Linked DNA regions of Homo sapiens: region 2 is linked to region 1. The links come from fine-mapping of genetic effects on gene expression. A gene starts in region 1. The other region holds a variant in brackets. All regions are shown on one strand. Distances are between the middles of the regions. Region 1 holds the start of PIK3R5 (phosphoinositide-3-kinase regulatory subunit 5). Region 2 overlaps PIK3R5 (phosphoinositide-3-kinase regulatory subunit 5).

Region 1 (5,359 bases):
ATAGCTCACTGCAGCCTCGAACTCCTGGCCTCAAAGCCTTGGCTTCCCAAAGTGCTGGGATTATAGGCATGAACCACTATGCCTGGCCAGCTTTCTTTCTTAACACATTGGTTCAGGCTTTTAGCTCACCAGCTGAGGCCAAACAGGCATTCTGGTTCTCAGAGGTCCCACAGGGCCACGCAGCTCAGTCCCTTGGGATGAGCATCTTTGAAGAAAGGCCAAGTCAGCACAGCTTGAGTGCTCAGTGGAACCCAAGCTGGGGCTTCCAAACTCTAGGCTACCCAGGCAAAAAGGATCCTGGCTCTCCTCCTCTCCCACTCCTCAGCCAGCAGGCCCCTGATGGATGGCTAACACAGGGGTATGGAGCAGCCTGCACCCCTGCCTTCTCATCCTCATGCCAACATCAACCCCAAATGCTCTTGTCACCCAGTGCCACCAGTTAGCATCCAACCTATTCTTCTTCTTCTTCTTCTTTTTTTTTTTTTGTTTGTCTGTTTGCTTGAGATAGGGTCTCTCTGTGTCTGCCAGGCTATAGCGCAGTGAAGCGATCATAGCTCACTGCAGCCTCGAACTCCTGGGGTCAAGCAATCCTCCCACTTAAGCTTCTCGAGTAGCTGGGCAACCTGTTATTCTTGAGGGCAATAATCAACAGTGAATGGGAGGGAGGAAAGGCAAGCAGGGAGGCAGAGACTGTCTGCTTCTACTGCAGCCTGAGGAGGGAAGATAATGAATCATCCCTCTCGTAAGCTAGAGATGAAAGGAGGGAGGTTCTTAAAACCCTAATGAGGCTCAGCACACAAAGACCCCAAGCCTTCCTGCCCTCACAGTCCTGGTTTGTGAGGCTTCAAAAAGCAGGGGAGGGAGCCCTGAAGCAAGAAAGTAGCTTGACCATCCAAAACTGTCTTCTTTGTCTTCCACGGGTCCACAGGCAAAGACCCACACCACCACAGCCACAACGAGGAAACACGGAAGCCAGCGTTCTACAAACATCCACGGAGCATCTCCCACGTGCAGCCGTTCTCATCATACATGCCTCACTTAATTTTCCACACTGGGCCAGGCACAGTGGCTCATGTCTATAATCCCAGCACTTTGGAAGGCCAAGGTAGACGGATCGCTTGAGCTCAAGGAATTTGGGACCAACCTGGGCAACATGGCAAAACCCTGCCTCTACAAAAAATACAAAAATTAGCTGGGCGCCGTGGTGCTGACCTGTAATCCCAGCTACTTGGGAGGCGGAGGCGGAGGATTGCTTGAGCCTGGGAATTTAAGGCTGCAGTGAGCCATGATCACGCCACTGCACTCCAGCCTGAGTGACAGAGCAAGACCCTGTCTCAATAATAATAATAATAATAATTCCACACAGCTCTATGGGTCAGTATGACAGCCCATTTTATGAATCAGGAGACTGAGGCTGGGTTGGGGGACAGTGTGATGCTGCAGGTCACACAGCTGGATCCGGTTGGAACTTGGGTCTCTTTTCCACATCATGCATGGTTCCCAAGCAACGGCTTCAGCATCATCACTTAAGGAGCTCATTCAAAGTTTTGAAAACTACAGATTCCAGATCCCATCCCTGGAAAGCCACGTTGTAGGGTTGGCTCCAAGAGAGCCCTACCTGCAGTCAGCTCTGGGAGCCAGTGCCTTACAGGTGGTCCTGAGGGCAGGAAGGAAAGTGTGGGGTGGATGAGAAGACACAGAAGGAAAACGAGGGTGTCAGTCCAGAGAGGACCTTGGAGGCAGGCTTGGCCTACTTTTAGCCCTTATTCTGCCTAAACCCACCCCTCCTCTCTACTCCGAGTCTTGTTAACTCGCTTTATACCACATCCTGCTGCTTTAACCTCGCCTTCCTTTTCCTTCTGAACAATCTCCTTCCTCCTACTGACCTGAACTTTTTGTGTATTTACCCCAGGCCGGGATGGGCCAGCACGCGCACATGCGCATGCCCACACACACACACACACACACACACACACGAGTCACGCGGGGATGTCCAGTGTGTAAACACAGATCCTCTGAGAGCAGAAAGCGTGCAGTTCTCTAGGACAGCAGCCGCGTCTGGGCCCAAGGCTGGCTAACTAGCAGGCTGAGTGAGGCTCGACGGAGGGCGCCTTACGCGGGCACTTCCATGACTCCCAGGTTCTGACGGCACAAGAGCCCTGATGCCCACGCTCACGGACAGTTCCCCGCTGGAGCGGGCAGGGGACCTGACCCTACGACACAGGGCGTCCTGTGTCAGAGGCAGGAGGCTGAGGACACAGCTGCGCAGAGCCGCCCAGCAGAGGTTACCCGGATAACGATAAGTGGTCCCCGCGACGCCCCTTAAGTCTCTGGGGTTATCTGGAGCGCAGGTTTGCAGACCCGCTGCCCCCGCGGTGGGCCAGGTCCACGGGGCCGGAAGATAGCAGGATCTGTCCAGCCCTCGGGCTGCGGCGGCTGCTCGCGGAGCCCACTCTCCCCGACGGTCCCCAGCTTGCTCCAGCTCTGCCTGGAGCTCCCATGCGTGCCCTCCGCATCCGCCCTGGCCGCCCAGTCACACACCTGCAGTCCCCGCCGGGCGCCGAGCCCCTCTCCAGCGGCGACTCCCTGCGATTCGGGTGACCGTCGGGACCACCGCGCCCCAGCTGGAGCCGCGCGGCGAGCCGCAGCATCTGCCCAGCCTGGGCTCCTCCGGCGGGCGGGGCGGAGCCTGTCAGGGGGCGGGGCCTAATGGGGCGGGGCTGACCGCGGAGCCGGCCTCTCCAGCCACCTGGCGGCCCGGCAGCGTCAGCCAGGTGCGCGCCCGGCCCCACATCCTCTGGGTCACGCCCCCGAGGCCGCAAGGCGTCTGAGAAGCAGCCCCGGCTCTGACCCGCCAGCCCTCGGAAGAAGCAGACCCTGGCCGGTCCATGGCAGTGGCCCGAGGGGCACCAGCGCGGAGCACCAGCGACCCCCAAGGAGTAAGGGGAGGTTAGGCCCCCGCGTCGGAAGCGCGGCTTTGGCCCCGCAGGAGGGCTGGGCGGAGCAGGGGGGCAGGTCTGGGGTAGGGGCTTAGGGGAAAGACGAGAAAGAGGAAGCTCCGACGAGCTGCTTCCTTCTCTCACTGCGACCCACTTCCTCTTCCTACTTCTATTTTCTTTCTTTTTTTTTTTTTTTTTTTTGAGATGGAGTCTCGCTCTGTCGCCAGGCTGGAGTGCAGTGGCACGATCTTGACTCCCCACAACCTCCGCCTCCCGGGTTCAAGCGATTCTCCTGCCTCAGCCTCCCGGGTAGCTGGGACTACAGGCGCGCGCCACCACGCCCAATTTTTTGTATTTTTACTAGAGACGGGGTTTCACCATGTTGGCCAGGATGGTCTCGATCTCTTGACCTCGTGATCCGCCCGCCTCGGCTTCCCAAAGTGCTGGGATTACAGGCGTGAGCCACTGCGCCCGGCCCCTACTTCTATTTTCTTTGGGTGCCCTTAACCCTTAAAATGCCTGCACTACTGCTGTGCAGACGGGCACCTTGACCCGCATCCTTCTGCAGGAACCTTCATAGAAATACCAGCCAGTCCCGGCGTTCAGCACTGCTGTTCCAGCCTCTGGCTGGACTTCCCGCCCTCCCTGGCCGGCACCAAGGCTACTGTCACCTGAGTGGTTTCCCCAGCCCCTGGGGAAGGGAGTGAGGGTGTGCGGGAGTTCCTGCCTCCAGGGTCAAGGCCCTCTTCTTGCCTCCCCCTTTTCTCCCCCAGACGACGTTGCAGATGATGCTCTACCAAGAGTTGGAAGGACTCCCCAGGGAATCCCACAAGACACTGCGCTTCCTATGCCTCCTTTCCCTCGTTTAAAAAATGGGGATAAGAAGGTTGGCTACTGCTCCGACAGCCCTCACAATGGAAGAGTAGCACTTCATTTGTGGGTTAACAAAGGGCAACGCTGAAATCTCCACTTCCACTATTGAATGGAACTGTGTCATAATATCTGTTAGAGGCGTGCAAACTCGGCCACAAGGTCATGGTCATACGTTATTGTTGGTCAAAAGCCGCAGCCCTACCTGAGGCTTTGAGAGATATGAACACCAATGACTTTTCTTTTCCTGACTCCCGAAATACCAAGAAAAAGCAACTTCCCCAAATGGACAGAAACAGAAAGTACCCTTGGTTGAACACAGAGGCCTGGTTCCAGCCATCGTTAGACGTGGGAAGGAACTCAGACCCCCTCTCCTACCTCATCCCCAACCCCTTCCCCACACGTCACCCTTTCACAGAGAAGGAACCAGAGCCACCAAGGGCTGAGAGAGGACTTGATAAGGATTCCAGTCTTCTGTCTCCCCTGTCCCCACTTTTTCCACCACAAAAATATGGACATTTGGAAGAAGAGGAGAAGAGGGAAGGTACACACTGTGCAAAGGAAGAAAATGGCAGAAATGCTCTGGAATCAGGAATTCAGGAGCAAGAATGACACTGTGTGCCAGATGGAAATGTTGGATTAGGAGAGCACTTGGAAAGGCAAATAATCTGCCAGAGAAATTATGGGATGCCTGCCTTCTGAAAATGGAGGAAAACTGCAAAAGAGTGGCTCATTGGTGCTCACTCCTAGGGCTCTGAGCATCCCAAGAAGCCAACTTGGTCCCATCGTACATCCCCTCAGAAGTAGGCATTCTCCTCTCCACCTACAGCTGTGGCCCAGATGTGGAGCCTGCATGTTATGCCACGCCGTCAACACTGAGTTCTGTCTGCGTCTCCCTGTCACAGATCTGATCAGCACCTGACACCTATCCATTCTCCATTTCCCACCTCCCCAAAGCTGCTGGAAAAACTCTGAAAGGTACCTCTGTCACTCATTAAGCATCTGATTATGTACCTCTTTCTACAACTCCTTTGTTGCTTTGTTTTAAAATCTATGGCTCTTTGAAATCACTCTCCTTCCTTTCACTGCCTAATGTTTTCAAAGAGGAGTCTACCCCTGCCTCCACTTCCTCATCTTACATTTATTCCTCAATTCTCTGAACAGAGACCACCAGGGAAACCCCAAATGTCAACTCCAATGGTTTCATTTTCTTACCTCACTACAGCATTTGGCACCACTCCTTCTTGAAAATCCCCTCCTTGGCTTCTCCTCCACCTCTCACCATGATTTCTGTTTTCTTCTTCTGGCTTCATTTCTTCATCATCTCTTAAACATTACAATGCTTGAGATTTCAGATAAGGCTGCTTCTCTTCTCCCTGGGCAATCTCATCCATTCCCATCATACTGATCCCTCCCAAACTATCGCCCAGACTTCTCTCTTGAGCTCCAGATCTGTAATTCCAAGTGTTTTCTGTACACCCATACCTAGATAATCAATCCAAAAGCCTTTTAATTACTCCATGACCTAAAATAAATTCCTCATCTTCTCC
Region 2 (5,359 bases), 81 kb before region 1:
GACTTCGTCCACTGATGGCCCCCTGGAAATGCAGTGTAGCCAGACCCTCTGAGTCCAGAGGCCCCGGTGCCTGCTGCCTTCTCTTTGAAGGCCCATCAGTGACAGGGGGTTGCCTCTAGTTAGCATATCCCCAGAAAGCCCTCTCTTATTCACCAGGGCCCCTGTACCACCCTGGATAGACCTGGATGACTCCAGGGAAGAGCTCACGTCACTGGCTTGGTCTAGGGGTCAGCAGCCTCTGTGACCAGGTTGAAAGGTACAAGAGCTGAGAGCACCTGCAGGGGTGGTCCTGAAGCTCTCCTGCCGGGCCCAGAGTGAAGAAGGGTTGGGCCCACAGACATGCTGTTTCTGGCAGAGCCAGACCTGAACCCCCTCTTCAAGTCTTTGTGTGAATGTCTCTGTCATCAGGGACCTCCATGTTGTTAAACCGAAGAACACTTCTTGGTCCTCAGCTTACTTGACCTTACAGTTCACTGCTCTCCCCTCCTTGAAAACCTCTCCTGGGCTTTCGTGATGGCACCTTCCTGGTTTTTCTAGCGCCTCTCTGGCTGGTGCCTCTCTGCTTTGCTGGATCGCTGCCCTCTGCCCGCCATTACATCATGAAGGGCTCAAGGTTCTCCCCTTGGTCCTCTGCTCTTTGTATTCCCTGCTTCCCCCCTTCAGGAGTCTCCTCCGTGACCTTTTTCCATTAGCAGCTGTCCACCCATCTTCATATTCACCACAAAGTCAGGCCCGTTCAGCCAGCCGTCTATTCTCACTGTCTCCTTATACCTCTCAAGGCCTCTCAACCTCAATAATATGTCCCGACCCAAACTCAAGCTCTTCCCCAACTGGACCCCGGCCTCTTCCTGTGGTCCCCCCAGAGAAGATGGTGCTGCCAGTCACAGAGGAGTGACTCCAGGAGTCTGGCCTCTCCTTTCCTAACCCATCCATGGGCCCTGCTGATTACATCACTCACATCTGTCTCCCATTCCTTTCCAGCTCTGCCACCACTACCCTAGTGCAGGCTGCTGCCCTAATTTCTCTTCTGGACCATGGCAACAGCCTCCTAACTGGCCTTCCTGCATCACTTGTGGACCCTTCCTATCTGTCCTCCACAGAGCTGCCAGAGGGAGCTTCCAAGCCTCAGATATAATCATGTCACAGGCATTCCCAGCCCCACCACAAACATAAGCCCCCTTAATGGATATCCACTGCTCTTAGGACTAGGATAAAATTCCTTTCATTGGGTCGGGCGTGGTGGCTCATGCCTGTAACCCCAGCACTTTGGGAAGCCAAGGCAGGTGGATCATGAGGTCAGGAGTTCGAGACCAGCCTGGCCAACGTGGTGAAACCCCGTCTCTACTAAAGATACAAAAAATTAGCCGGGTGTGGTGGCGGGCACCTGCTACCCAGCTACTCAGGAGGCTGAGGCAGGAGAATTGCTTGAACCAGGGAGGCGGATGTTGCAGTGAGCCAAGATTGAGCCATTGCACTCTAGCCTGAGAAACAGGGCGAGACTATGTCTCAAAAAAACAAACAAAAAACCACAAAACTCCTTTCATTGCAATTAAGGCTCTTGGTATGCTGGTCCCCCATTTCTTTAGCCTCACCTCAGCATCATGTTCCCACCAGCTGTCTCTGCTCCAGCCTGGGGGTCTTCTTTCAGAGTGCTTCAAGGTGTTCACACTGCCTCCCACCACAGGGCCTTTGCACATGCAGTTTCTGCTGCTGTGAGAGCACTCACCTCTCTTCTCAGCCTAATTAATTCCTGGTTTTCCCTCCAATATTAACTCAGGTGCCTTCTCAAGGAAGCCTTCACTACTAACTCTCCTGACTGGGTTCGGTTTGCCACTTAGGAACATCCCGTGTCCCTCTCCTCATCCATGTGTCACAGTTGTAATTTTACATCGTGTGCATCATCGAACCAATGCCTACCACCCACTCCAGGGGGCCAGCAGGTCTCCTGGGACCACGTCTGTCCTTTGTTCACTCTTAGGAAGGCTCCAGGGCCTAGAACAGTGCCTGGGCTGTGGAAGACGTCTAGCAAGCACCTGGCATGTGGCTACAGTGAGTGTCGGTGCCTCCTGCCCACCTCCTTCACTGCCAAACGCACTGCAGCCCCAACACCACCGTCCATCTGCTGTTTTATTGCTTTGTCATCACTTGCCGCTCTCTGGAATTATCTTGGCTATTTCTTTGTTTCCTCGTTTCTTGTCTGTCTCCCTCCTCTAGACAAGCTAAAGTGAGGCCTAGGCTTCCCTGCTCAACCCCTCTTTTCCCCTGCCCAGCACAGAGGCAGCATGGGCAGGTGCTAAGAGGATATCTTTGGAATGGCCGAAGGAAGAAGCCCACCTGTGAGGCCAAGCTTCCCTCAGCCTGGACCTTGGGATGCGACCTGCTCAGAGAACTCATGTCTTCTGGCATGTCATGGACAGCCCTCCACCTCCCCACAGCTCTCCTCACTCCTTTCTCACGCCAATCCCATCTTGCATGCAGCCTGCCAGGCACACTGGCCCCCCGAGACCCTGGCTTCTCCCTGAGGTGCCTCTGGAAGGCTTCCCTTTCCCCCTTTCAGCCCCAGCCCTGTAGCCAGGCCCAGCAGACCCCTACCCCTGGGCTGCTGCTGAGCGCATTCGGGTGGGGGCAGAGAACATGGTGGGAGAGAGGCTTTGGAGGCCAAGAAGCACAGAGATATCCACTCCTTCCCTTCTCTGCTTCTCTCAGCATCCAGGGGAGCCTGCTGCAGCCTTCCAGCGTAAAGACTGGGGCCCAGGAACACACGAGTCCAGCTCTGGG[T/C]CCAAGCTCTGGCGGAGGAAGTATCAGCAGCAGATCCTGGAGGGGAAGGAGCCCCAGCACGGGTCTTACCTTGCTGTAAATAATCTGTAGTGTTAGAGGAACAGCCTCCCGGTCGCCATCGATGCCCAGCCGCTTGCTGCCAGGACCTGTGCCACACACAGACAGACCCTTCACTACCCCTGGCTTCCCCGGCTCCTCACGAACGCAGTGGCCTTGCCTCCCTGGGCCTTACCTCCCCATCCCCTACCACATGGACCGTGACTCCCTAGGGATCTGTCTCACCAAGGCCCTGCCTCTCTCTCTGGCTCCACGTTCTGGGGATCTCCACCTCCTCAGTGACCCCATCACTCCAGGGCCCATCTCCGCTGTGATCACACATTCCCAGGGTCCTGCCTCTCCAGGGCCCCATCTCCGCTGTGATCACACCTTCCCAGGGTCCTGCCTCTCCAGGGCCCCATCTCCGCTGTGATCACACCTTCCCAGGGTCCTGCCTCTCCAGGGCCCCACCTCCTGGGTAACCCTGCCTCCCCAGGGCCCACCTGCTGGGTAAGCCTGCCTCCACCTGGCCCGACCTCCCATGTAACCCCCCTTCCCATGGTCCTGCCTCCCGGTAACCGTGCCTCCCCAGGGCCCTGCCTTCCAGGCAACCCCGCCTCCCCATGGCCTTGCCTCCTGGGTAACACCGCCTCCCCAGGGCCCTGCCTCGTGGGTAACTCCACCTTCCCATGGCCCTGCCTCCCGGTACCCCTGCCTCCCCAGGGCCCCACCTACCAGGCAACCCCGCCTCCCCATGGCCTCGCCTCCTGGGTAACCCCGCCCTCCCATGGCCCCACCTCCTGGGTAACCCCGCCTCCCCAGGGCCCCGCCTCCTGGGTAACTCCATCTTCCCATGGCCCTGCCTCCCGGTAACCCTGCCTCCCCAAGGCCCCACCTACCGGACAACCCCGCCTCCCCATGGCCCTGCCTCCTAGGTAACCCCGCCCCCCCATGGCCCCACCTCCTGGGTAACCCCGCCTCCCCAGGGCCCCGCCTCCCCATGGCCCTGCCTCCTAGGTAACCCCGCCCTCCCATGGCCCCACCTCCTGGGTAACCCCGCCCTCCCATGGCCCCACCTCCTGGGTAACCCCGCCCTCCCATGGCCCCGCCTCCTGGGTAACCCCGCCCTCCCATGGCCCCACCTCCTGGGTAACCCCGCCTCCCCAGGGCCCCGCCTCCTGGGTAACTCCGCCTCCCCATGGCCCTGCCTCCCGGTAACCCTGCCTCCCCAAGGCCCCACCTACCGGACAACCCCGCCTCCCCATGGCCCTGCCTCCTAGGTAACCCCGCCCTCTCATGGCCCTGCCTCCTGGGTAACCCTACCTTCCCGTGGCCCCACCTCCCGTATCCCTGCCTCCCCAGGGCCCCGCCTACCGGGTCACCCAGCCACCCCATGGCCCCACCTCCCGGTAACCCCGTCTCCCCAGGGGCCTACCTCCTGTGCAACCCCACCTTCCCATGGCCCCACCTCCCAGGTAACCCCACCTCCACAGAGCTCCACGTTTCGCGTCCCAGGCCCCGCCTCACCGTCTGTCTCTGCTCAGGCAGTACCCACCTGACGCCTTGATGGCACGTGTGGCAGCGGAGTGACCCAGCTCCAAGGAGTGGATGAAGATCTCTGTCGTCTTCTCCCCAGTGATGAAGGTCAGCTGGAGAGGGCAGGAGCATGTACATCAGTGTGAACCTCCTGGAGGGGCCCATTTGGCTCCTCCAGCATAGACCTGCTGGCTCTCCCGGGGCAGGGGTGGGGCCTTGCAGGCCCGGCAGGTGGGGAAGAGGCGGTTCGGGGCAGGGAGGCCTTACCTCGGTCTGATAGACTTGCAGCAGCACCGGTCTGGCGGCAAAGCGGCAGTAGTAGAGTAGCATGTCAGCCAGGATGGGCAGCTGGGTTGGGGAGCCCTCCAGGGCCTGGGCTTCAGCCTTCAGGGACTGCTGTGGCCAGAGGGAAGGGGCAGCCAAGCCAGATGGGTGGGTGGATAGATGGTAAGAAGGAGCAAGAATTAGGGAGGAAGAGAGAAGAGAGACATAGAGGCAGCCAGTCAGGGGGAGCTGGTGAGGTGGAAGCAGGAAGCAGGGGAGGGCCGGTGCCCAGCCTCCATGCCCCTCACCTGACCCACTGGCCTCCAGGGAGGCTTCTGGCTTAGCCAGACAAAGGCGGGAGTTGAGGAAGGGGGCTGAAATCTGAGGTCCCCCGGACCCTTCTGAGGGCCCTCCTCCATCACTGCAGTGACCCCAGCTCTCACACTCAGTGTCCTGAGTTCAGGCTCAGTCCTGCTTCTCACCCACACTCCCTGATCTTTTCCAAGAGGGCCCAGGTCCTCCATGGGGGCCTCAAGCCTGATTCCCTAAATCCAGGGCCTTCTAAGTGAGGCTGGGTGACTGCAGCCAGTGGACCCTGTTCCGCAACCACGGGGCCACTTACCTGGCACAGGACTTCAGGGGGCAGGTGCATGAGGCCCAGTACATTGCGCTCATACCAGGGGTCCAGCATGCCGAGGTAGTGGGAGATGTCATTGGTGCTCTCCTCCCATGGGGTGGTGCCCAG

What was found. PIP is the estimated chance that this variant, and not a neighbour inherited with it, causes the effect. A credible set is the group of variants that fine-mapping cannot tell apart.
Region 2: its variant is the best candidate, but not a certain one, in a credible set for the expression of PIK3R5 in whole blood (TOPMed, PIP 0.70).

The regions. Positions count from the first base shown.
Region 1 is chr17:8,963,055-8,968,413 of GRCh38, forward strand. PIK3R5 (phosphoinositide-3-kinase regulatory subunit 5) reads right to left here and starts at 2,653. Exons shown (of 19, transcript NM_001142633.3): 1 at 2,542-2,653. PIK3R5-DT (PIK3R5 divergent transcript) reads left to right here and starts at 2,793. Exons shown (of 3, transcript NR_184080.1): 1 at 2,793-2,949; 2 at 3,713-4,787. RefSeq lists silencers at 2,577-2,896, 2,967-3,066.
Region 2 is chr17:8,881,860-8,887,218 of GRCh38, forward strand. PIK3R5 (phosphoinositide-3-kinase regulatory subunit 5) reads right to left here. Exons shown (of 19, transcript NM_001142633.3): 12 at 5,237-5,359; 13 at 4,618-4,746; 14 at 4,370-4,463; 15 at 2,848-2,924; 16 at 1-22. It overlaps LOC124903919 (a long non-coding RNA gene), which reads left to right. Exons shown (of 3, transcript XR_007065610.1): 2 at 2,707-3,324; 3 at 4,359-4,435. Among named protein-coding and RNA genes, the nearest start is that of PIK3R6, 17 kb to the left of the region's middle. RefSeq lists a silencer at 3,035-3,198. The variant T/C (reference allele first, on the strand shown) is at 2,779.